Homo sapiens: one gene and its partners. The protein of the gene in region 1 purifies or fractionates together with the protein of each later gene. This does not show direct contact. Each region holds a gene or a part of one and is shown in the gene's direction. Other genes may lie near its edges.

Region 1 (8,814 bases):
GCTGCTGTACCTTCTAGTACCTGGTTTTTACCACTTTTGGGCCCGTTAAGGGTGAGCTCATCGTTAATATTTGGCCCATGCATATTCAACTTGCTTGTAAAGTGCCTGTCTCTGGTTACAGCAGATCTAGGTAAAGGTGATCTTCAAGCTAGGGTTCCAGCTGCTTCCTGTCTTGGAATCAGACGCTCCTGCTGTCCCCTGGGGACCCTTAGATCAAGCAGCTGGAGATTCCCATGCCCTCGGTAGGCAGGGCCAGTGCTCTTAAATCAGCAGGAAGATGACACGGAAGACTGACCTCCTCCCTCATCTCCCTCAAGAATAAGGGATGGAATGGCTGAGCACGGTAGGTGGCTCATGCCTGTAATCCCAGCACTTTGGGAGGCCAAGGTAGGCAGATCGCTTGAGCTCAAGAGTTTGAGACCACCCTGCACAACATGGCAAAAACCCATCTCTACCAAAAATACAAAAATTAGCCGGGCGTGGTAGCACACACCTGTGGTCCCAGATACTCAGGAAGCTGAAGTCTGAGGATCGCTGGAGCCTGGGAAGGGGAGGCTGCAGTGAGCCATGATTATGCCACTGCATCCCAGCCTGGGTAACAGAGTGAGACCCTGTCTCAAAAAAAGAAAGAAAGAAAATAAATAAAAGAAGAAGGGATGGAAATCTCCAAGGGGGAAAATGAAATGGGAATAGCACTGGGTGGTCACAGGAGGATGGAAAAACCCAAACAACAGCTAGAATAAGAACGAGGCAAAGAAACCGCAGGTTAACAGAAAACCCAAAATAAGGAAGAGAAAATGGTCAAATCCTGGTCAGGGTGATATGTCCATGATCCTGGGAAAACTTGAATAAGGGTAAAAGTCTGTGGTAATGGGGGGAGGGAGTCCCTGAAATCACTCCTTTTCCAGAATACCTTATGATTATTCCACCCCCTAATTAAAAAAAAATCCATAAAATTAGAAACTCAAACTCTGATGTGACTCACTCTGCTGAGCACGCCCGCAATTCTCTTTTACGTGTGTGCTTTCGCTTTGCAGTAAAAGCTTCTTGCCTTTCGTTTCATTCTGACGTGTCCCTGAATTCTTTCTCATGCTGGTGTCAAGAACTTGGAAACTGGCTGGGGCTGGGGTCTCAGTGGCATCCAGAGACCCTCCGGAGACCTCCGACAGCTGTAGGTGATTGGGGGCGCCAATCACATAGGGGTCGGAGAGTGATGGAATGCACCTTAATTTTAATCTGAGTGTCATGGAAAACAGTTGGATGGTTCTATGCAGAGGAGTGACATGATCTGACTTATAGGAAAGATCATTCTATTGCTGTAGGAAAGCAGGGAGGTTAATTTATTAACAGAAGGTATTATGGGTTGAGTTGTGTCTCCTCAGAATATGTTAAATCCTAACCCCTAGTACCTGTGACTATAACCGTAACTGGAAGTGAGGTCTTTATAGATTATTGAATTAAGATGAGATGAGATCATTAGGGTGGGCCCTACTCCAATATGACTGGTGTCCTTAAAGGAGAGGAAAATCCCACGTGAGGACAAGGAGACCATCATGTGATGACAGAGGCAGAGGCTGGGGAGGGTGCCAAGGGCATTTTACAGTAAACCTGAAACACTCGTTCAGGCCGAGATGGAAAGGGGGGATGGATGCCTCATTATACCCTCCTCCCTTTGGAATTCAGGCACAGTTGACCAGCATTAACGTTAAAACAGAGACCTTAAGACTGACAAAGCAGAATTTTTGTAGCAATAAGATACCAATGTGACAGATTGCAAGCCCTGAAAGAAACTGGAGTATTTTACCCCAAATATATTCATTTGGCATATTTTGAAATAGCCTTGCAAAACTGTCTCTTTGGGGAAAAACATCTACATTCTGAGGAGACTCCCCTTCCTTTTCCAGGTCTTTTTCTTGATCCAGGAGATAATTTACTAAGAGTCCGGCACCTGAAGTTTGATAAGAAACATTTACAAAGTCCAGGTGAGGTGGGCCACACCTGTAATGCCAGCACTTTGGGAGTCTAAGGCAGAGGATCACTTGAGGTCAGGAGTTGGAGACCAGCCTGGCCAACACAGTGAAACCCTGTCTTTACTAAAAATACAAAAATTGGCCGGGTGTGGTGGTGCACGCCTGTAGTTCCAGCTACTTGGGAGGCTGAGTAGGGTGGATCGCTTGAACCTGGGGGGCAGAGGTTGCAGTGGGCCAAGATTGTGCCATTGGACTCCAGCCTGGGCAACAGAGTGAGACTCTGTCTCAAACAACAACAACAACAAAAAGAAACATCTACAATTCATTCTCTTTGAAGCCTGCTACCTGGAGGCCTCATCTGCACAACCCCTTATCTTAACCCAGACACTTCCTTCTACTGATTCCAAGTCTTTAAGTAAACTTTCTACCAATTGCCAATCAGAAAATCTTTGAATCCACCTATGACTGGAAGCTCCTCTCTTGGAGTTGTCCCACCTTTCTGGGCTGAACCAACGTACTTCTTACATGTACTGATTGATGTCTTCCGTATCCCTACCATGTATAAAACCAAGCTTAGCCCGACTACCCTGGGCACATGTTCTCAGGATCTGCAGGGGCTATGTTACAAGCCATGGTCACTCATCTTTGGATCAGAATAAATCTCGAATATTTTAGAGTTTGACTCTTTTCATTGACACTCATGCAGCAGACTATTGCCATCATCCAGGCCACACACTGTTAAATGGAAAAACCTTAGACACGTGTATGTTTTAACTGAGTGTATTTGAGCAAAACAAAACAGATTCCCGAATGGGGCAGCCCTCCAAACCAGAGCAGATAAGAGAACTCCAATCAGGAACCTGATCTGACAGCACCTATAGGAAACAGAAGTGTGTGATGGAGACAGCTAATTTGATTATAACTTCATTGCTTAACTGGTTACAGAGTTTCCTGCCATGAAGTAAAGCTCAGTTACTGTAGTTAAACTCCTTACTGGTTTGGTCTGGTAGGTGTAGTTCAGGGTTTCACTCTGTTATCAGAAAGGGGTTCCAATCCAGACCTCAAGAGGGTTCTTGGACCTTGTGCAAGAAAGAATTCTGGGCGAGTCCATAAATTGAAAGCAAACTTATTAAGAAAGGGAATAAAAGAATGGCTACTCCATAGGCAGAGCAGTGGCACTGGCTGCTTGACTGAATATACTTATGAGACTTGAAGCCAGCTGGACTTCCTGGGTCGAGTGGGGACTTGGAGAACTTTTCTGTCTTACAAGAGGATTGTAAAATGCACCAATCAGCACTCTGTAGCTAGGATTGTAAAATGCACCAATGAGCGCTCTGTAGCTAGCAAGAGGATTGTAAAATGCACCAATCAGTGCTCTGTAAAACGCACCAATCAGCAGGATCCTAAAAGTAGCCAATTGCAGGAAAGATTGAAAAAAGGGCATTCCGATAGGGCAGAAACAGAACATGGGAGGGGAGAAATAAGGGAATAAAAGCTGCCCCACCCCCCCACCCCCGCCAGCCAGCAGCAGCAATCCACTTGGGTCCCCTTCCATGCTGTGGAAGCTTTGTTCTTTTGCTCTTCATAATGAATCTTTTTTTTTTTTTTTTTGAGGTGGAGTCTCGCTCTGTGGCCCAGGCTGGAGTGCAGTGGCCCGATCTCGGCTCACTGGAAGCTCTGCCTCCCAGGTTCACGCCATTCTCCTGCCTCAGCCTCCTGGGTAGCTGGGATTACAGGCGCCCGCCACCATGTCCGGCTAATTTTTTGTATTTTTAGTAGAGACAGGGTTTCACCGTGTTAGCCAAGATGGTCTCGATCTCCTGACCTTGTGATCCACCCGCCTCGGCCTCCCAAAGTGCTGGGCTTACAGGCATGAGCCACCACGCCCGGCCTCTTCATAATAAATCTTGCTGCTGCTCACTCTTTGGGTCTATGCCACCTTTAAGAGCTGTAACACTGTGAAGGTCCGCAGCTTCATTCTTGAAGTCAGTGAGACCATGAACCCACCGGCAGGAACTAACTCCACACATAGTTATAGTTATCTCTTGATTATAGGCTAAATAAGGAGGGGATTATTCATGAGTTTTCTGGGAAAGAGGTTGGCAATTGCTGGAACTGAGGGTTCCTCCCCTTTTTAGACCATATAGAGTAATTTCCTGATGTTGCCATAGCATTTGTAAACTCTCATGGCGCTGGTAGGAGTGTCCTTTAGCATGCTAATACGTTATAATCAGCAAATAATGAGCAATGAGGACACAGAGGTCACTTTTGTGGCCATCTTGGTTTTGGTAGGCTTTGGGCCAGTTTCTTTACTGTGTCATCTTATCAGTGCGGTCTTTGTGACCTGTATCTTGTGCCCACCACCTCATCCTGTGGCCAAGAATGTCTAACCCCCTGGGAATGCAGCCCAGTAGGTCTCACCCTCATTTTACCCAGTCCCTATTCAAGATGGAATCGCTCTGGTTAAAAGGCCTCTGACATGTTGAGCCATCCTTTCACCTCAGCCTCTCAAGTAGCTGGACTACAGGTGTGCCACACCATCCCCTGCTAATTTTCCAAAAAAATTTTGGTAGAGAAGGGGGTCTCCTTATGTTGTCCAGGCTGGTCTCAAACTCCTGGGCTCAAACGATCCTTCCATCTTGGCCTCCCAAAGCATTGGGATCACACGCGCGAGCCACCGCACCTGGCCCCACAAGTTTCTTTTAGCACCATGACGGTGGCTTCAAATAGGGCGGCAGTGGAGGTAAGAGGCCATCAGCCACAGGAGGAGCGTGGGTGGGAGGGCAGGAGAGGTCAGAATGCCTTCCAGGGGTTTGGGCCTCAGCGTTGGAGTGATGGAGCTGCCCTGACCTGAGACGGTGGAAAGCGAAGGGGCCTCGCAGCGAGCTGGTTTGGGGTTCAGGGCAGAGGTTGCGCCTGGAGCAGAAAGGCACCTGACTGCTATACTGGGGGCACATAGTGGGCCTCGGCACTCCACCTGCCAGCAAAATCATTTTCTATAACGCCGCAAGCCTAAAAATGGGCCGATAAACACAAACCAGACCCTGAACCAGATCGTTGTTAACTCTTCAACCTGCCTTCCAGCCGAACCTCTTAGGCCAGAGCTGGGACCAGGCCGGGTTGGGCGTCGCGCTTGTCAATCATCTAGAACCGGGTGTGATTGAGCGAGTTGGGATCCCACTGCCGACAGCCGCGCGGAGGCGGTCGGGAAACCGGAAAACGCTTCCAATGGCTGTGTTTCCGGCGACGGCGCGGGGGCAGCTGGGAATCCGGAATGCTGCCCGATGGCCCTGGGTCCTCGCTGTGGGGCAATCCGGGCTTGCAGACGAGGTAAGGTCGATTCCATTTGGCCCGGGGATGGTCACACGCGCGGGGGCCGGAACTGCCGTCGCCGGCGCGGTCGTTGTCGCATTGCTCTCGGCCGCACTCGCGCTGTACGGGCCGCCACTGGACGCAGGTACCCGACCGCTGACCGCCTCTGCTGGCTCGCGGGGGGGAAGCGCCGCCGAGGGGCAGCCCGCGCGCGGGGCCGGGGCGCCGTGTGGCCTGCGGGGCGGAGTAGGGAGAGGACGGAGGCCTCCTGGAACGGCGCGGCGACGGCTGGGCGCGGCTTGGGTGATGGGAGCCTCCGTGCGGGGTGACAGAGGGGCAGAGGGTGGCGCCGGGCCGGAGCCAGTGCGCGTCCCAGGAGCGGCGGAGCCCGCGCGGTGGCCGGGGAACGGGGGGCCGAGGGCCGAGGACGGTAGGAGGGCCCTGGGGCGCCGTGGTGCGCTGGTCGGATCCGTCTGCTCTGCTCTGTCCCCGCTCCCGGTCTGGGAAAGATGCTCGCCAACTGCGGGCTTGCTGTTTGGTCGGAGCTGGATACGGGGGCCCTCCTGGGGCCCAGGGACGCGGCGGGCGTGCAGGCGAGCTGGCCGGCTGAGCGGGCTTCGCGCACACCAGGAGCAGGGCCGTGTCTGCATCCCCAATTTGAAGTCCCAGTGCGACTGGGCAAGTACAGACCCTGCACGTCCTTGGACGAGAGGGACTGGATATTGCGACGCCTGGGCCGCAGAAAAGGACTCCACCAGCCAGGCCTCCTTCGCCCGCCCCCGGTTCGGGGTGTGTGTGTGCGTGTAGGAGGTCCCTTGGGGAGGGAGGCTCACCTGAGTCATCCCCAGAACCTGAAGTGCTGGCCAGATGTCCCCGAGGGCCCTGCCCTGGCCTTGGCTGGTCCTTGCACGCTGAGATGCCTTTTCAAATAGAACGGATAAGGTAGAAAGAATTTAAACAGGAGCTGAGCAAGTGCTTGGAGCCCCATCTCTTCATAGGGTTTTTTTGTCTTTCTGTTTGCCTTGTTGGTATTGGTGTATCTAACATATTTTATACAGGAAGTAGTTCGTGTATATCTCATTTCTCATAAGGAGAGATTGCTGTTATCCACCTTGGTATAGAAGATAAATAGAAGCTCAGAGAAAGTGACTTAGCCAGGATTCTCCAGCCAGTGAGTGGCCGAAATGGTTAAACGCACCATTTGTTGCTGTAGTCATTAGATAGATTTTACCTTGTGTGTATGTTGGGCATCGTCAGAGAGTTTGGCTTTTTGTTTTCATCAGCACACACTGAGAATGCACTGGGTGGCGCTGAGAGGGTACTCTACACTGCACCTCACTCACACCAGCAGGGAGGCTTCTTAACACTTTATTTAGAGATTTATTTGTAGCTCTTTACCTTAAATTCACACACCGTGATTAGTAGCAAGATTTTTCATTGCGCTTGGTTGAGGATTTATTATCAGACTGCCTAAACTTTTACGAAAAGCCAGGTAGAGTTGTATATTACTGAGGCTTTAGGAAATATTTCAGTTAACTTAGGGATTGTGGTTAAATGCTCTAAATTAGTTATAACTCACATTAACTTAAAGTATTTTTGTTTTTTTAAGTAGAATTTTCCAGTACTAAAAGCACTTTTAGCACAAAGCAGCAGTGATAGTCTTCCCCAGACACGCTTCCTTAAAACAAAAGCCAAACAAATTTAACCTGTTCTTCCAGACTCAGAATTGTCTGAAGAGTTACCGAATGGGATACATCTTAAGTCGCCTATTGTCAAGGCCTTTTTATCCTTCAGAACTTTGATCTTTATATGTAAATGTTTCTGTGTTAACATTTGAAATGTTAAGTTCAAATGGTGACGTCAGTAAGCCAGCTGGAACTTGCTTCACTGCCAAGTGCTGGGAAGTTTAGTTGACCTGCTTTGGCCCTTTTGCTAACAGAAGCTGTTTATCTTAGGTGAATGCTGGTGAGCAGCCTGGATTTTACTTTGTGTTAATACAATTCTATTCAAGTGAAAATGCTATACTTCTTATTTTGCCTTAAAATGGCAGCATTTTACACCTACTGTGTGCCCACAAAAATAAAAACAAAAACATGGCAGCACTTTGGTAAAATAGTGTCTTGTGGCCTGGCTTGTCCATTACTAACCACAGCATCTGCACAGGTTTCTCTCTGGGCCCCAGTTTCCTTATCTGTAAAAGAAAGATAAAGTGCTAGTGAGGAGAGTGAATCACGATGTCTTGACTTCATCGAACATGTATCAAGTGTCTTGTTCTGTGCCAGGCTGTGTTCGAGGTGATTGAGTCCCACATGGAAGCAGTCAGTGCTGCAGCTTGCGGATGGTGCCACATTCCTCGTGGGCAGGCAGTAGTAGGGTGCTGATTCTCTGCCAGTCCAGACATAAGAACTTCCTTCTTATGTCCAGGTCAGCCCCTACCATGTAGGTTGTCTGTGTGCTCGAAAGGTTTCAGAACCCCACATGTAATAATAGTTACTTTTGGTATCACTTTGAATTTTTAAAATTATGTAGCAAAAAAGTTACTATTAATTATATTATGAGTTTAACATAATTTTAAGCTAGCTTCCATTTGAGAGCCGTTGTTCTCATGTGTAAATCTTGAAATATTCAGTTTCTGGATGGCGCTTCTTGTTCTCCAGGGTTCTTAGACCCAGCCCTTACGGTAGCATCATGGCCAGGGAACTGGGAATCTCACAAAGTCTTAAGATTTCACAACGGAACAGGAGCAGGAGGAGGCGACTCCCGCTGGTGGGTTGATCAAGTTGCTGTGAAGGTGGTTTGCACATTTTGGGCTTCAAAACACTACCTTCTGTATAAGATAAAGGAATAGCTCAGAACAGGATTCCCCCCGTGTTTTCTTCCTAGCTATGATAAAGATTGCCGTGTGAATGCAGTGGGTTTTACACACTCAGAATTGATATTTTTGGCTTGTGGTAAATGGGACTTTAATGCTTAACCTGCTGTAGAAAAATCCGCCTTAGAAAGTGGCCCTTATTCGTATATTGTATTCGATGTTTGAGCCCCCTGATATCTTATCATTTTAACAAAGCTTACCTTGAAGTGCAGGAAAAATTGTATGTGTTCTTGTCATTATTTGAATAACAACAAAAATCAGTATTAGCTTTAAAGCCTGTAGGTTTTAAGCGTATCCTTGCCTGGACTAGCATATCTCCTCTTTCTCAACCAAAAAGATCAGAAAGGTGCTATCCCAGTACCAAAAGTACTGGGAGGACTTTCAGCAGAGTGTGACGCAGAAGGGAAGCTTTTCCGCTCTGGGGAGCAGATGCGGAGAGGACAAGCACTTGGAACACAGCATCCCTGGGAGCTCTGGTGCTGCAGTTGTGACCCCGAGGCGGCCCTGCTGTGCCCTCCTGGGAGTGCTGGGCGACACTGGTTGCAGAGGGGCATTGGTGCTCCCCTCCACCTGACAGGTGCTCCACCTGGACTCGTGGCTGCAGCTTAATTTTGTGTCAGATCCTTTCCGGTAATGTATAGGTTATTTCAACTATGAGGC
Region 2 (8,136 bases), about 65 Mb from region 1:
CACTGTTGTTCTTACTATTGTGTCTAGTGGAACACATCTAAGGAAGCAGAAGTACTTTTTAGCAGGACTTACAACTGTGGTAATATCAATGGGAAGGGACAGACAATTTGACAAAGCCTCCATCCTGACCTCTGTCTTCCTGCCAACTCTCAAATTATAGAGACTCTCCAAATGTGCTTATATTTATTGGGGACCCACAGTGCCAGGTGCTATGCTGAGCACTAAGAATACAGTAGTGAGCAAGACTGGGTCCCTACCCCAACGAGCTTACTGTTTCATGGGAAGACTGTCGAGAAAACTGCTCATTCTTTTGAAGTGCGGTAACTGTTCTCATAGCAGCATGGATGCACAAAGAGGGCAGGCACCCATTTCACCCAGTTTTTAGTGATTAGGAGAGACTTCCTGGAGGACATGGTGTCCAAACTGAGGCCTGATGGATGAGAAGGGCTTAGCAAGAGAAATAACTCAGCAGGTGCAATGCAGTGTGTGCCAAGTTGCAGAGGTAAAAGGGAGTATCCCTGTGTTTGGGGAGCTGTGAGTATTTTATACAGCCATTCAGTGACTTACACAAAAGATGCATTCTCAACAAAGCACCTGTAACCAAGAAAAACAAATGCCCAAAGCAACATTCCTATAAAACAGGATTTCTAAAACTTCAGTACTATTGCCACCTTCCTGGGCATTGTTGAACGTTTAGCAGCAACCTAGGTCCCTACCAACTTGCCAGTAGCAAGCATCTAGTTGAGGCAACCGAAAAACTCCAGACATTGTGAATTTCTCCTGGAGGGCAAAATCTGATTCAGATTGAGAACCGCTGCAATAAAATATAATGATAAAGAATTTTATGGGCTCATTCCCAGTACACCAGCTAGGAACACTGGCCTATCCAGGTGTTCTTCTTAGGAGTAGCAATGGCTCATTGCTTCTGCATTTTGCCAAGGAGAGGAGGTGACCAGATGTCTCAGTCAGATACAACCTCCTCCTTTCGCCAACCACCAAATGTTACCCCTAAAAGGTCTGACTAAGCCCTTTCATTCTGCAAGCACCAACCATCCAGAAAAACCTGTGAGACTCATTCTTGACAAGACGCAGGTCCATATTATCTGCATCATTCCTGTAGTTTAATGTAATTAAACAAACATTTATCAAATTGTAGTTGATTCCAAAGCATTTGTTATTTATTGCCACTATATAGTGCACACACAATTGCCAAGATGATGAAAACCATGATGTGGGTAAAAAATGGTTCCTGCTGCCCAGCTCCTCATAGAGATTGGCATCATCCACCTAAGGGAGTGTAGTGAGGGCTTTTGGCTGTGTGGATGTTACTGTTCTAACAGTTTGCTAATAAAAGGCCTAAATGGCAATAAAAGCCCAGCTACTTGAGAAGTGCCTATATGGCCAGACTTTAGAATGTAGGATTGAGGGGCAAGTGCATGGGTGAGGAGGATAGGGAACTGGATTCTTATGGCTGGAGGGCTCTAAGGACCACGTGGTCAGGGGCCTTAATCTTGAGGACACTGGGGAGCCAATGAAGAATTTTAAGCTGGTGAGTGCCATGGCCAGATGAATTCAAAGATATTTCTACAGCACTTACATTTTACAAAGTATGTTTTTGCACACGTCGCCTCATTTAACATTCTGTAGGGAGGGTATTGTTTCCATTTTGCAACTGAGGACTTTAATTAACTCAAGGCCAGAGAGCTAATAAAGCTGTGGCCAGGATTGAGTAGAACCTAGGTCTTCATTTCCATATTGCTACCTGGGTGTGTTAACTGTAGTCAGATAAAAAACATGCACAAAGAGCCAAATAGGGGGAAAGTTGAAGGCAAAGAATAGATGAAAAAGAAGTTGCTTCCAACAGGGACTGGCACTGAATAGTTCGTAGATATATTTCTGGACTTACCACTTTTTTTTAATTCTTTTTTTTTTTTTTTTTTTTTGGAGATGGAGTCTTGCTCTGTTGCCCAGGCTGGAGTGCAGTAGCACGATCTCAACTCACTGCAACCTCTGCTTCCCAGGTTCCAGCAATTCTCCTGCCTTAGCCTCCCAAGCAGCTGGAACTATAGGCAGGCAGCACCATGCCCGGCTAATTTTTGTGTTTTTAGTGGAGATGGAGTTTCGCCATGTTGGCCAGGCTAGTCTTGTACTCCTGACCTCAGGTGATCCACCTGCTTCGGCCTCCCAAAGTATTGGGATTATAGACGTGAGCCACCACGCCTGGCCTTTTTTTGTTATTCTTGTTTCTAAACTGGTTATGCTGCTGCAACCAAGTTACTATTCCCTAGAGAAATAGTTTCCAATCCCTGGGCCAAGACCCTTGGAGGAACCCAAGGTTACTGCAGGGGCCCCACAAATTCCATATGCATTTTCATAATGGACACTGAAAATACTACCATCTATTTTATAGGGACTCAAAATTTTTAAAAAATTCAGTTTTCTTTCAAAAAGATCTTTGGCCAGGCATGGTGGCTCATGCCTGTACTCCCAGCACTTTGGGAGGCCGAGGCAGGAGGATTGCTTGAGTATAGGAGTTCGAGGCTGCAGTGAGCTGTGACTGGGCCACTGCACTCCAGCCTGGGTGACAGAGCGAGACCCTGTCTTGAAAAACAAAACAAAACAAAAGCACAAAAAAACCCACAAAGGGATCTTCATACTTGAAGGCTGGCCATTCCTGTGTATTTCTAAGTATTATCTGAGTATTAGCATGGGCTGGTGGGGCTTAGGGTAATGGTAGAGTTTGGGTGTCCAAAAGCTCTACAGGAAAGGGAGGAATCCAGTGCTTTGTATGTAGTACCACACAGTCATGAGTCTGGAAAGGACTTGGTGAGGTGAGAGAGAGGTAGAAAGGGTCATGTACTTATTTCCCTGCCCTAGAAAGGCAAGCATTCCAATGACTTTCCCCCACAGGCTGGGGATTGTATTTGTTTTTATGGCCAGAATTCAGGGGATACTTCAAAGGGGTCCAAATTTTATTGATTTCAAAACATTGTGTGGCCAAAAATCCAGGTACTCACCTAGAGTCCAAGTTGGAGCACAGAAAAGAGATTGTTTAAGCTCAACCTGGGGCCTGAGCTGGAGACACAAGAGAAGGAAATGAGAGAGAGATGGCCCTGGGCCCTGGTTCTGTAACAGGGCAGTTATCTCATGAAACCTCTGTTCTGTCATCTGTAAAATGGAAATAACATTTCTTTGTCTTGAATGAACCAAGGGATGTAAAGATTCCTGGAGTAGCACTTTGCATCAACAGATGCAAGTTTTATACATATGCATTTTCCTTCCTCCCTTCCTTCCTCCCTCTTTCTCCTTTCCCCTTTCCTTTCTTCCCCTTCCCCTTCCCTTCGCCTCCCCTCCCTTTCCTTTCCTTTTCTTTCTCTCGCGCTGTCACCCAGGCTAGAGTGCAGCAGCTAGAGTGCAGCAGCTAGAGTGCAGCGGCGTGATCTCGGCTCACCTCAACCTCCACCTCCCAGCTTCAACTGATTTTCCTGCCTCAGCCTCCCGAGTAGCTGGGATTACAGGTGTCCATCACCACGTCCGGCTAATTTTTGTACTTTTAGTAGAGATGGGTTTTCTCCATATTGGTCAGGCTGGTCTCGAACTCCCGACCTCAGGTGATCTGCCCGTCTCGGCCTCCCAAAATGCTGGGATTACAGGCATAAGCCACTGAGCCCGGCCCCAGTTATATGTTTAAATCATGAGTTCACAGCCGGGTGCCGTGGCTCACACCTGTAATGGCAGCACTTTGGGAGGCCGAGGCAGGCGGATCACCTGAGGTCGGGAGTTCGAGACCAGCCTCACCAATATGGAGAAACCCCATCTCTACTAAAAATACAACAATTAGCCGGACGTGGTGATGGGCACCTGTAATCCCAGCTACTCGGGAGGCTGAGGCAGCAGAATCACTTGAACCTGGGAGGCGGAGGTTGCAGTGAGCTGAGATGGTGCCATTGCACTCCAGCCTGGGCAACAAGAGTGAGGCTCTGTCTAAAAACAAAACAAAACAAAAATATACCTGGGTATGCTTGAACACAAACACTGCCATACCGTTAAAAATGTTATATATTAATATATAAATAAATATTTACATATATGTATATTAGATATATATGTAAAGATTTCTACTCATAGTACGGTTCTTTTAATTTTTTGTTCTGTTTGGACATTTTCTTTCTTTTTTTTTTTTTTTTTTTTTAAGAGGGAGTATCACTTTGTCGCCCAGGCTGGAGTGCAGTGGCGCGATCTTGGCTCACTGCAACCTCCGCCTCCCGGGTTCAAGCGATTCTCCTGTTTCAGCCTCCCGAGTGGCTGGGATTACAGGCACCCGCCACCAGGTCTGGCTTTTTTTTTTTTTTTTTTTTTTTTTTTTTTTTTTTTTTTTTTTTGAGACGAAGTCTCGCTTTGTTGCCCAGGCTGGAGTGCAGTGGTACGCTCTCTGCTCACTGCAATCTCCGCCTCCCAGGTTCAAGCGATTCTTCTGCCTCAGCCACCCAAGTAGCTGGGATTATAGCGCCCGCCGCTATGCCCGGCTAATCTGTATATTTTCAAGCTAAAAGCTGGGGTATAAAAAAATAAGGGCAAGTTTACTTCCATCCAACTGTGAAGGTTCACGGGGGCACCGTGAGAAGGTTGCCCCCTGCGAAGGTTGCTTTTCCACGGTTCTCGATGCGTTCCCCAAATTTCTCTTCCACCTCCCAGTCGATATCGGAGGCCACATCAGGTGTCACCGAGTCCCGGGCAGCTCCCTCAGGCAGCGGCAGGGGAAGATCCTGAGGGGCACTTGGGACGGGCCCCGCCCCTCCGTGTCCCCATCTGGGGCTGTCAGGGGTGTGGCTAGTGCTGGCAGAAACCAATGGGAGCTGAGGAGGTCGCGTGTTTGCGCGGACGGGGCGGGGCGGCGCGGGGCTGCGTGCAGGCTCGTGGGTCTGCCCCGCCCGCGACGGCATTTTTTCCTTTTCTCCAGCGGCCTCAGGTTCTTGTTACAACTGAGTCCGGGTTGGAGGAGGTGTGGGGCCGCTGCCGCCAGGTAAGTCCTGGCCCGTGCCTCCTCCTGCCGGCCCCGCTTTCTCTGCGGCTCCTGGAACCCGGGCCTGGGGTAAGGTTGGGCTGCGATTTCCGAGGAGCCTCCTTTGCAACCGGGCGTGCTCGGGGCTGCCTGTGCTCTCCACTTCGCAGGCCGGGCCGGGCTCGGCGGGGCGCGAGGTTCCGGGGACTGGGGACAGGGCTCTGCTTCTCGGGCTGCTGCCTCCTTGGGTCGGGCCGGTGCCGCGGGGCCCCCATCGCTGTTGGCGTGGGGTGATTCCTGTTCCAGGGTCATTCAGATCCGAGTGCGAAGCCCGTCCTGGCATCTCCGCGTCTGCTAACGAGCCCCGGGCTTGCAACCCTGCTTGTGCGTCCCTCCCACTCGTGCGTTCATTCAAACGGCAGCCTGAGCGCCCGCGAGCTTCGCACTGTGGGAGAGGGCACACCACATTCGGAATCGCTCGTGGCACACAGGCTGGGAGGAACTTGCCTGGAAAGTTAATGTACCTCTGGGTTTTGAAGTCTTTCTAGGTGCACTTTCATGTAAAGCAGTTGCAGTGATTAGCATTTTTGTTCTGCGCAAGAGTAGCAAACAATGTTGGCACTGCCCTGCGGATTCGGCTTGCGGTGCTACTTGGGTAGTGAGAAAGTTGAAAGGCATGAATCTTGCTTTTGGCTTTGCCGTTGCGAAGCTTTGTGACCGCGGGCTCAGTTAATTAACGTGAAACGAGATGATAATTTCGAAGATTTCTTTTAAACCCGGCTTTTTGTAAGTCTGTGATGAGCTTAGTTTTCCTTCTGCACCTTTAAAAAGAATAGGAAATAGGAAAAGTTCATGAAAGGGCATTATTGAAAGGGCAGTCGGTCCAGCAAGGAACAATAAATGTATGAGAGCACATTAAAGGCTGTGCAATTACAGTTTTAAGACTTAAGACTAAAAAGGGAACAGGAAGTAAAACTGAAAGAACTTACCAAGAATTAAATAAGAGAAACGGCTGGGAGCGGTGGCTCAGGCCTGTAATCCCAGCACTTTGGGAGGCCGAGGCGGGCGGATCACCTGAGGTCAGGAGTTCGAGACCAGCCTGGCCAACATGGAGAAACTCCGTCTCTACTAAAAATACAAAATTAGCCGGGCGTGGTGACGGATGTCTAATTCTAGCTACTCGGGAGGTTGAGACAGGAGAATCGCTTGAATCCAGGAGACGGAGGTTGCAGTGAGCCGAGATCATGCTATTGTACTCCAGCCTGGGCAATAAGAACAAAACTCCGCCTCTAAATAAATAAATAAGAGAAACTTGGAAAGCGTTCAAAAGTACGAACAGCTAGTATTATATTTAATTACCTCCCTTTACAGCTGTACACATGAGGTCAGGTGGGTGAAAATAAATACTAAGCAACCATGTAAGAGAAAATGTAGACAGGATGTGTAACTTAGCATATATCCTAAGTGTAGGGAGAATCCTTTGAAATTCTTAATTTGTATAGACAATTTCATTCAGAAAACTTGTTTTTAACCTTTATTTATTATTTGGGACAGGGTCTTGCTCTGTCACCCAGGCTGCTAGAGTGCAGTGTCATGGTCTTAGCTCACTGCAGCCTTGAAGTCCTGGGCTTATGTGCCCCTTCCACCTCAGCCTGCGGAGTAGCTGGGACTAGAGTCGCGTACCACCATACCTAGATAATGTTTTGGATTTTTTTAGTATAGGTGGTCGTCTCATTCTGTTGCCCAGGCTGGTCTTGAACCCCTGGCCTCAAGCTATTCTCCAGCCTCAGCCTCCCAAGTAGCTGGGATTACAGGTATGTGTGACTAGCCCAGCTAACATTTTTGTTGTTGTTTTTTTACTTTGTATTTTTCACTTTTTTTTGTATTTATTTATATATTTATTTATTTATTTGAGATGGAGTTTTGCTTTTGTTGCCCAGGCCGGGGTGCAGTGGTGCGGTCTCAGCTTACTGCAACCTCCGCTTCCCAGGTTCAGGCAGTTCTCTTGCCTCAGCCTCCCGAATAGCTAGAATTACAGGCGCCCACCACTATGCCTGGCTAATTTTTGTATTTTTAATAGAGACAGGATTTCACCGTGTTGGCCAGGCTGGTCTCGAACTCCTGACGTCAGGTGATCCACCCGCCTCGGCCTCCCAAAGTGCTAGGATTACAGGCATGAGCCACCGTGCCCGGCCTGTTTTGTTTTTAACTTTAAAAAATTTGGACCGGGCGCCGTGGTTCATGCCTATAATCCCAGCACTTTGGGAGTCGGAGGCAGGCAGATCACAAGGTCAGGAGTTCGAGACCAGCCTAACCAACATGGTGAAACCCCATCTCTACCAAAAATACAAAAATTAGCTGGACGTGGTGGCACGTGCCTGTAATCCCAGTTACTCAGGAGGATGAGGCAGGAGAATTGCTTGAACCTGGGAGGCAGAGGTTGCAGTGAGCTGAGATAGCACCACCGCACTCCAGCCTGGGTGAAAGAGCGAGACTCAGTCTCAAAAAAAAAAAAAAAAAAAAATTATTCAGCCAGGCACCAACAGCTTTCTTTCTTTTTTTTTTTTTTGTGATGGAGTCTCGCTCTGTCACCCAGGCCACAGTGCAGTGGCGCCATCTTGGCTCACTGCAACCTCTGCCTCCCGGGTTCAAAGCTATTCTCCTGCCTCAGCGTCCCGAGTAACTGGGATTACAGGCATCTGCCACCATGCCCAGCTAATTTTTGTATTTTTAGTAGAGACCGGGTTTCACCATGTTGGCCTGGCTGGTCTCGAACTCCTGACCTCAAGTGATCCACCCTCCTCCACCTTCCAAAGTGTTGGGATTACAGGCTTGAGCCACCACACCCGGCCAACAGCTAACATTTTTAAAAATAAAATTTTTTATTTCCTCTGCTGGAAAATTCTATATTTATTCTGAATGTATAGAATTCCCTGCCCTGCCCCCCACCAATATTTTTTTAACAGCCCTTGGAAGATAGTGTCTGCAAAGTACTATCTAGAGGAAGGGTCATGTGATCCTTCAGAGAAACCTTAGTTTGAATATTTGGTAGCTTTGACCAGGGAAAGTTACTTTTCTTCTCTGAGGCTGTTTGCTTAGTTGTGAGATGTGGATAATGATACCTCTTTCATAGG
Region 3 (5,967 bases), on another chromosome or scaffold:
CAACCTCCAACTTCTAGGTTCAAGCAGTTCTCCTGCCTCAGCCTCCTGGGTAGCTGGGATTACAGGCATGCACCACCACGCCCAGCAAATTTTTGTATTTTTAGTAGAGACAGGGTTTCACCATGTTGGCCTGGCTGGTCTCGAACCCCTGACCTCAAGTGATCTGCCCGCCTCAGCCTCCCAAAGTGCTGGGATTACAGGTGTGAGCCGCTGCGCCTGGCGCTAAGCTGTTCTGAGTACTGCGCCTCACTAGTAGAGAGAGCCATCATAGACAAGTAAACAGATTGAACAACTCCACATAGGACCATGCATCAAACTGTGATGTAATACGTTTGGGAGCTTTGGCTCCTTTAGAGCACATGCTCAGGAGTGGCTTCTTGGAGAAAATGACCGTTAAGCTGAGACCGGCAGGTGAGTGGGAGGCAGCCACACCGAGACCTGAGGAGAGTGTGCTGGGTCAGGGAAGAGCGGTGCGAAGGTGGGGAGTGGGGAAGCACAGCCAAGACACAGAAAGGAAGCCAGTGTGCTGGAGCCCCCCGTGAACGAGGGGGGACGTAGCTTGTAAGAGGCTGAAGAAGCAAATCAGTTAAATGGTTACAGGGCCTTAGAGGCCTTGATAAGAAATTTGCATTTTTGTCTGCTTTAAGAAGCCATTGAAGGGTTTTAATCAGGCATCGGAGAGCCATGGTAGGATTCATGTTTTTAAAAGATCCCCTAGTTGTTTTATGGACAGAGAACTCTAGGAGGGCATGAGCTGACCAGAGAGCAGTTAGGAGGCCACTGCCACAGTCCGTGGTTTGGAGGAGGGTGATGGCAGTGGGAATGGAAAGGAGTGAACAGAATCAGGATCTGTTCAGAGGTAGGACTGACGAGGTTTTCTGATGGATCCGATCAGACAGCAAGGAAGGGAGTATGATGTGGATGTAGAGGAGGAGGAGTCAGGCTCCTAATGCAGGTCACAGGCTAGAGGCAACACGGATTTGGGAAAGTCAGGGAGGGCGTTGGACTTGGGAGACGAGCTGAATCTCAGATGCGCTGAACATACGCGCCACTAGAATCGAAGGTAAAGCTAGTTCTTAGGGGTTGCTCCCTCTTCGGTCGCACCTCCCTCAAGTGCTTCCTTTCTGCTTCTCTTGCCTTGTGGCAGGTGCTGCCTCTGAAGGGCATTTGCACCTCAGGACTGGGCTACATTAGGACCCTGGGCTGAGAGAACTGACCTGTTTTTCCTTCTGGCCTATAGGCTGGTGGACCACTTGCTGGCTGCTGCCATAGCTTAGACTTTTACAAATTCTGACAGGCATTTTAAAGCCGGGCACAGTGTGACTTACACCTGTACCCCCATCTACTCAACAAGCTGAGGTGGGAGGATTGCTTGAGCCCAGAAGTTCAAGACTAGCCTGGTCAACAGAGTGAGACCCCATCTCTATTATAATAAACATTTAAAAAATGTTAGCCAATAAGCCATTCATTCATCAAACATTAATTGAATACCCAGCGTGTGCTCCAAGCACATGGAAGCATGGAGAAATGAATCACACATGGCTGTGCCCTCAGGGAAGCCTTGTCTGGAAGTGAGAGAGGTTTGATGGTTTCTGTGCTGAAGGGCTCTGCAGCTAGAAGAGGGATGCAGCTGTGTGGGGGCTTGTAGGGTGCTAAGAGGTTGGTGTGCAAGGCACCAGGAGTGCCTGCAGTAGAAGTTCTTATTAAACGCGCACCAGCAGGACTGAAGTCAGAAACCCTGGGAACTTGTGCCTTCCCACACCTGCCTCAGCAGCTGAGTATTCACTCTCACTCACATCTGCCTTCCTGTCATCACAGGGAGGGTGACAGGACGGTTCTACGGAGAGGATGGGCTGCCCACCCCGGCACTGACCCAGGTAGAAGCTGCGATCACCAGAGGCTTGGAGGCCAACAAACTACAGCTGCAAGAGAAGCAGACATTCCCGCCGTGCAACGCGGAGTGGAGCTCAGCCAGGGGCAGCCGGCTCTGGTGCTCCCAGAAGAGGTAAGCAGGCTCCCCTTCTTCTCCTTTCTGCCTGTCCCAAATCCAACTCCTAGGCCATCCTGCCTGCAGTATTCAGTGAATTCAGGAATTGATTGTTAACCCTGGGGAGCTTTTTCAAAATACTGATAATAATTCTCAACTTTGGCTGCATATTAGATCTTCTGGGGAATTGCCGAAATTACGGATGGTCAGACCTCACTCCACTCAACTGAATGGGTTGAGACTTGGACTTGAGGCCTGGGCATCTTTTTATTTTTTCCGAATTCTCCAAAGATCCTGCTGACACAACCTTGACCCGGGAATGAGAAGGCACAAGCAGGATTTCTTGCTTTCTTTGGCCTGCTCAGCCACCCACGGGCTTTGGTTTCCTGTTTGACAGCACAAATCATGCCTATCTATAGGAGAGGGACGAGGAGGTGGGGAGGGTACCTGCAGTGATGGCTTCAACTGCTGTCTTAAAAACAGGTGAGGCGGGCATGGTGGCTTGTGGGCCACACCTGTGGTCCTGGCTACTTGGGAGACTGAGGCAGGCAGGTCGCTTGAGCTCAGGAGTTGGAGTCCAGCCTGGGCAACATAACAAAAAAACAGTAACAAACAAAAAAAACCACTGCAAATTCGGAGTTCTCAGCCTTAAATGAGCGGAGCAAGGGCAAAGGTAGCAGGAAGGAAAGCTCCTTCTTTCCTGGCCGCTAGCTTTGAAGAGACAGCTTCTCCAGTGTCATCTCAAGAAAGAGGGGACTGTGAGAACCTGGCCTGCTCACTTTATGGAGAGAAGCTAAGATAGGCGTGGGCCTTCCTGTGACACAGGCCTGAATGCAGGTAGCCTCAGAGAGCACTGGTCTCTGAGACTCCAGGAGGAGGAGACTCCAGGAGGCCTGCGTGCGTTCAGATGCTTGACTTTGCTTCCTTGGGCCCTGCCTCCTTTTCCCTCCCCACAGCCTTCCCCTGTGTCTCCTGAACCTCTTCTTGCTTTCATGACTGAGTAGTTCAGGCTCTGCCTTCCCCACAAAACCCTTCCAGGGCCACCCTAGTGAACTGCGGGGCCCTATCCCTGTGCCTCAGCTCAGTTTGTTGTCTTCTGTTCACCTGTGTGTGTCCCATTAGACTGAGAGGAACAAGTGCCGAAGGCAGGGACAAGGTGTGGAGTACAGATCCCCAATGATGGGATGGAGGCTGGGTAGAAGAGGGAGGCGTTTGGGTGACAGCCTTGTTCTTGGTAAGCTAGAAGTAGGATGTTTTCTCGCTGGGGGCAGTTTCTCTGACAGCAGGCACCGGAAGCTGTCTGAGGCGTCAGTTCCAAGAACCTCAGTTTCTTTCTTGCAAGGCCTCTGAGTCCATCAGAGACTGAGCCCAGTGCCCTGAGGTGGGCAAGGCCCCTGCCCAAGATAGGAGGGTGCTCAGGTTGTTGGGCCACAGCTGAATCCTCCGTGTCTGAAGCCTAGTGCCATCAAGGACTGGACCTGTGGGGCACAGGACAGCTTGCAGCTACACTCTATGCCAAGGGCTTCCCAGAGAAGGCCGACCCAGGTGGCCAAGGGCCAGGGCCCAATTGCCCACCCCCAGCCAAGTGCCCCAGAGAAGAAGGTGAAGACCCTGACCTGCGCTGGGTTGTAGTGGGGAAGGAAGAGGACAGTCGCACCCAGACACTGCTTCTGAGAAGCTCACAGGCCAGCAGGGGAAGCCCTTTCACAGCTGTTGCCACCAGTGCAGGAACGTGGTGCTGCCTCCTAAGAAGGGGCAGGGCAGGGGCTGGGGAGCACAGTGAAAGGAACCATGGACTGTGCCCTTGGCCTGGGGAAGGTGGTGGTGGCCCTGCAGGGGAAGCTGGAGGATGTTAGGAGAGAGCATGAAGGCTCAGGGGCTGAGCGCTGTAGCCTGCTGCCTTGGGAAACACTCTGGTAGGCTTCTACTTTTCAGAAGGCCTGGCTCTCTGCTTCCTGCTCTCCCCTTCCCAGAGACTCATGAGTTCTCACATTTAAGAAGTCCTCTTTCCGTCTATCCTTAGTGGAGGTGTGAGCAGAGACTGGATTGGCGTCCCCAGGAAGCTGTATAAGCCAGGTGCTAAGGAGCCCCGCTGCGTGTGTGTGAGAACCACCGGCCCCCCTAGTGGCCAGATGCCGGACAACCCTCCACACAGAAATCGTGGGGACCTGGACCACCCAAACTTGGCAGAGTACACAGGCTGCCCACCGCTAGCCATCACATGCTCCTTTCCACTCTAAGCCGTAGCCTCTTCTGTTAATAACACACAGAGAGCTCTGCCAAGCACCTGAGTAGGCCCTTGACACTTGTGTGCCCTGGGATGCCTCCTGGCGCGAATCAGGAGGGTCTGGAAGGACTCTGGCTATATTCTGCAAATGTGGCTCATGCCCCTTACCGTGGCTCGGCGTTGTGGTGCCTGAGGGACAGCCGGCCACCTGCCCAGTACTGGTCAGCTTTTCAACACTATTCCCTTTGACCTACTGGCCATCTTCCTCACAGCCCTCAGATATCAACGGGCACAAATAAGACCAACTCAATTTCCACTTGAATTTACAACCAAAAGCCTGCTGAGTTGATTACAGCTGGGCCAATACAGTACGAGGCAATAACAAATTAGTGTGGGTTGATTCTGGAATTGGAAAAGCTTTTGCTTGTATGGATACAGCAAATCCAGATGTCTCTGAACAAAGCAACAATTTAAAGCAACGACATTTTCTGTCCTTTAAGCACTTAAAATCAGGTGTGGTGTGTTTTCAAAGGCAGAAGTCTGCATTTTGAGCAAAAGGTGGCTTCCCAGCTCTAACAAGGTAACTGGTTAGCATGACATTAAAGCTTGGGCAAGGCTTCAAACTTAAGGTGGCTGGGCTTGCTGCTTGTCCAGTGGTTTGTATGTCCAGCGTCATCTGGCAATGTCATACCTGTTACCTCTTGACTACTTGTGAAGGTAGATGGGGGCAAGGAGTGTTCCTACTTCAGACAGAGAAGTGGGACCAGCACTACCACAGACAGCGCCACGGCCTCTGTGCATCGCCTCATCAGAGCTTCCACCCAGCTCCCTTTGCCGCTCAGTCTCACCCTCAACATCCACCAGCTTCCTCCCTCTCTGTCACTGTCTCCTTTTTCTCCATCATTCATTTCACTAAATCGCTTTCCAGATTCACAGACTAGAAAATGGAGGCTGCCTCCCCTTCACTGGCAGACCCGTACTCACTGCCCCTGTCCCCTTCACTGGCAGACCCGTGCTCACTGCCCCTGTCCCCTCACTGGCAGACCCGTGCTCACTGCCCCTGTCCCCTCACTGGCAGACCCGGGCTTATTGCCCCTATGGCCACAGCTGTTCCTTACACTTGGGCTCTGGCTCATGGCTCCTTTTGCCTGCCCCCGCCATCCTCCTCACCTGCCCCTCTTGTACCTTTAACCTCTCCCCGTCTCCTGGATCTTCCCCCAGGTATGCATCAAACAGCTCACTTCTCTCACATCATAAACATTCCCTCAACTCCAGTTTTGGCTTATACTCACTAGCTTTGCTTTTCAGCTCCATTTGCTCTAAAAATCAGGAGAAATTCTGCATTGGCACATTCCGTGGTCACATCCAGTTCTTACCTAGGCTTTGTCACTCTGGATACTGTGGACCGTGGGGTCCTCCATGAAACCCTCGCTGGGCTTTATCCTGCTTCCCTTTTTGCCTCTGCCCATTCCTTCTTAATTGCCTTGAGAACCCCGTTTTGCCTCCACAAACCCCTTCCCATTGGCTCCTCTCACTCCAAATCCGACAGTTACTTAGACCGTCAAACCTGCACGTCTACTCCAGGCAGCTTTGCAGAGCATTTCACCTTCCCCTCCCATGCTGCTTCTAGTTCTCCAAGGGAATGGCACCACCAGCTACACGCAGAGTCAGCATCCGAGCAGCCGTCCACACTCCATCCTCCCTTCCCTCCTCCTAACCCGCCTGCAGGTCCTGGGACCTCTGCCTCCCTCAT

The links.
Region 2: the proteins of NAXD (region 1) and SLC25A30 purify together in Homo sapiens (affinity purification with mass spectrometry; 2 studies listed by BioGRID and IntAct, with this or other methods). This does not show direct contact.
Region 3: the proteins of NAXD (region 1) and CYB5D2 purify together in Homo sapiens (affinity purification with mass spectrometry; 2 studies listed by BioGRID and IntAct, with this or other methods). This does not show direct contact.

Annotation. Positions count from the first base shown.
Region 1 is NC_000013.11:110,610,348-110,619,161, forward strand, and holds the start of NAXD (ATP-dependent (S)-NAD(P)H-hydrate dehydratase), read left to right. Parts: upstream 1-5,197; 5' UTR 5,198-5,244; coding exon of another isoform or gene 5,245-5,254; coding exon 5,255-5,300; exon of another isoform or gene 5,301-5,327; coding exon of another isoform or gene 5,328-5,427; exon of another isoform or gene 5,428-6,006; intron 6,007-8,814. UniProt on the Homo sapiens protein: Catalyzes the dehydration of the S-form of NAD(P)HX at the expense of ATP, which is converted to ADP.
Region 2 is NC_000013.11:45,415,187-45,423,322, reverse strand, and holds the start of SLC25A30 (kidney mitochondrial carrier protein 1), read left to right. Parts: upstream 1-4,949; 5' UTR 4,950-5,023; exon of another isoform or gene 5,024-5,161; intron 5,162-8,136. UniProt on the Homo sapiens protein: Antiporter that transports inorganic anions (sulfate, sulfite, thiosulfate and phosphate) and, to a lesser extent, a variety of dicarboxylates (e.g. malonate, malate and citramalate) and, even more so, aspartate.
Region 3 is NC_000017.11:4,152,856-4,158,822, forward strand, and holds the end of CYB5D2 (neuferricin isoform 1 precursor), read left to right. Parts: intron 1-1,818; coding exon 1,819-2,005; exon of another isoform or gene 2,006-2,068; intron 2,069-2,434; exon of another isoform or gene 2,435-2,569; intron 2,570-3,091; exon of another isoform or gene 3,092-3,338; intron 3,339-4,010; coding exon 4,011-4,227; 3' UTR 4,228-4,842; downstream 4,843-5,967. UniProt on the Homo sapiens protein: Heme-binding protein which promotes neuronal but not astrocyte differentiation.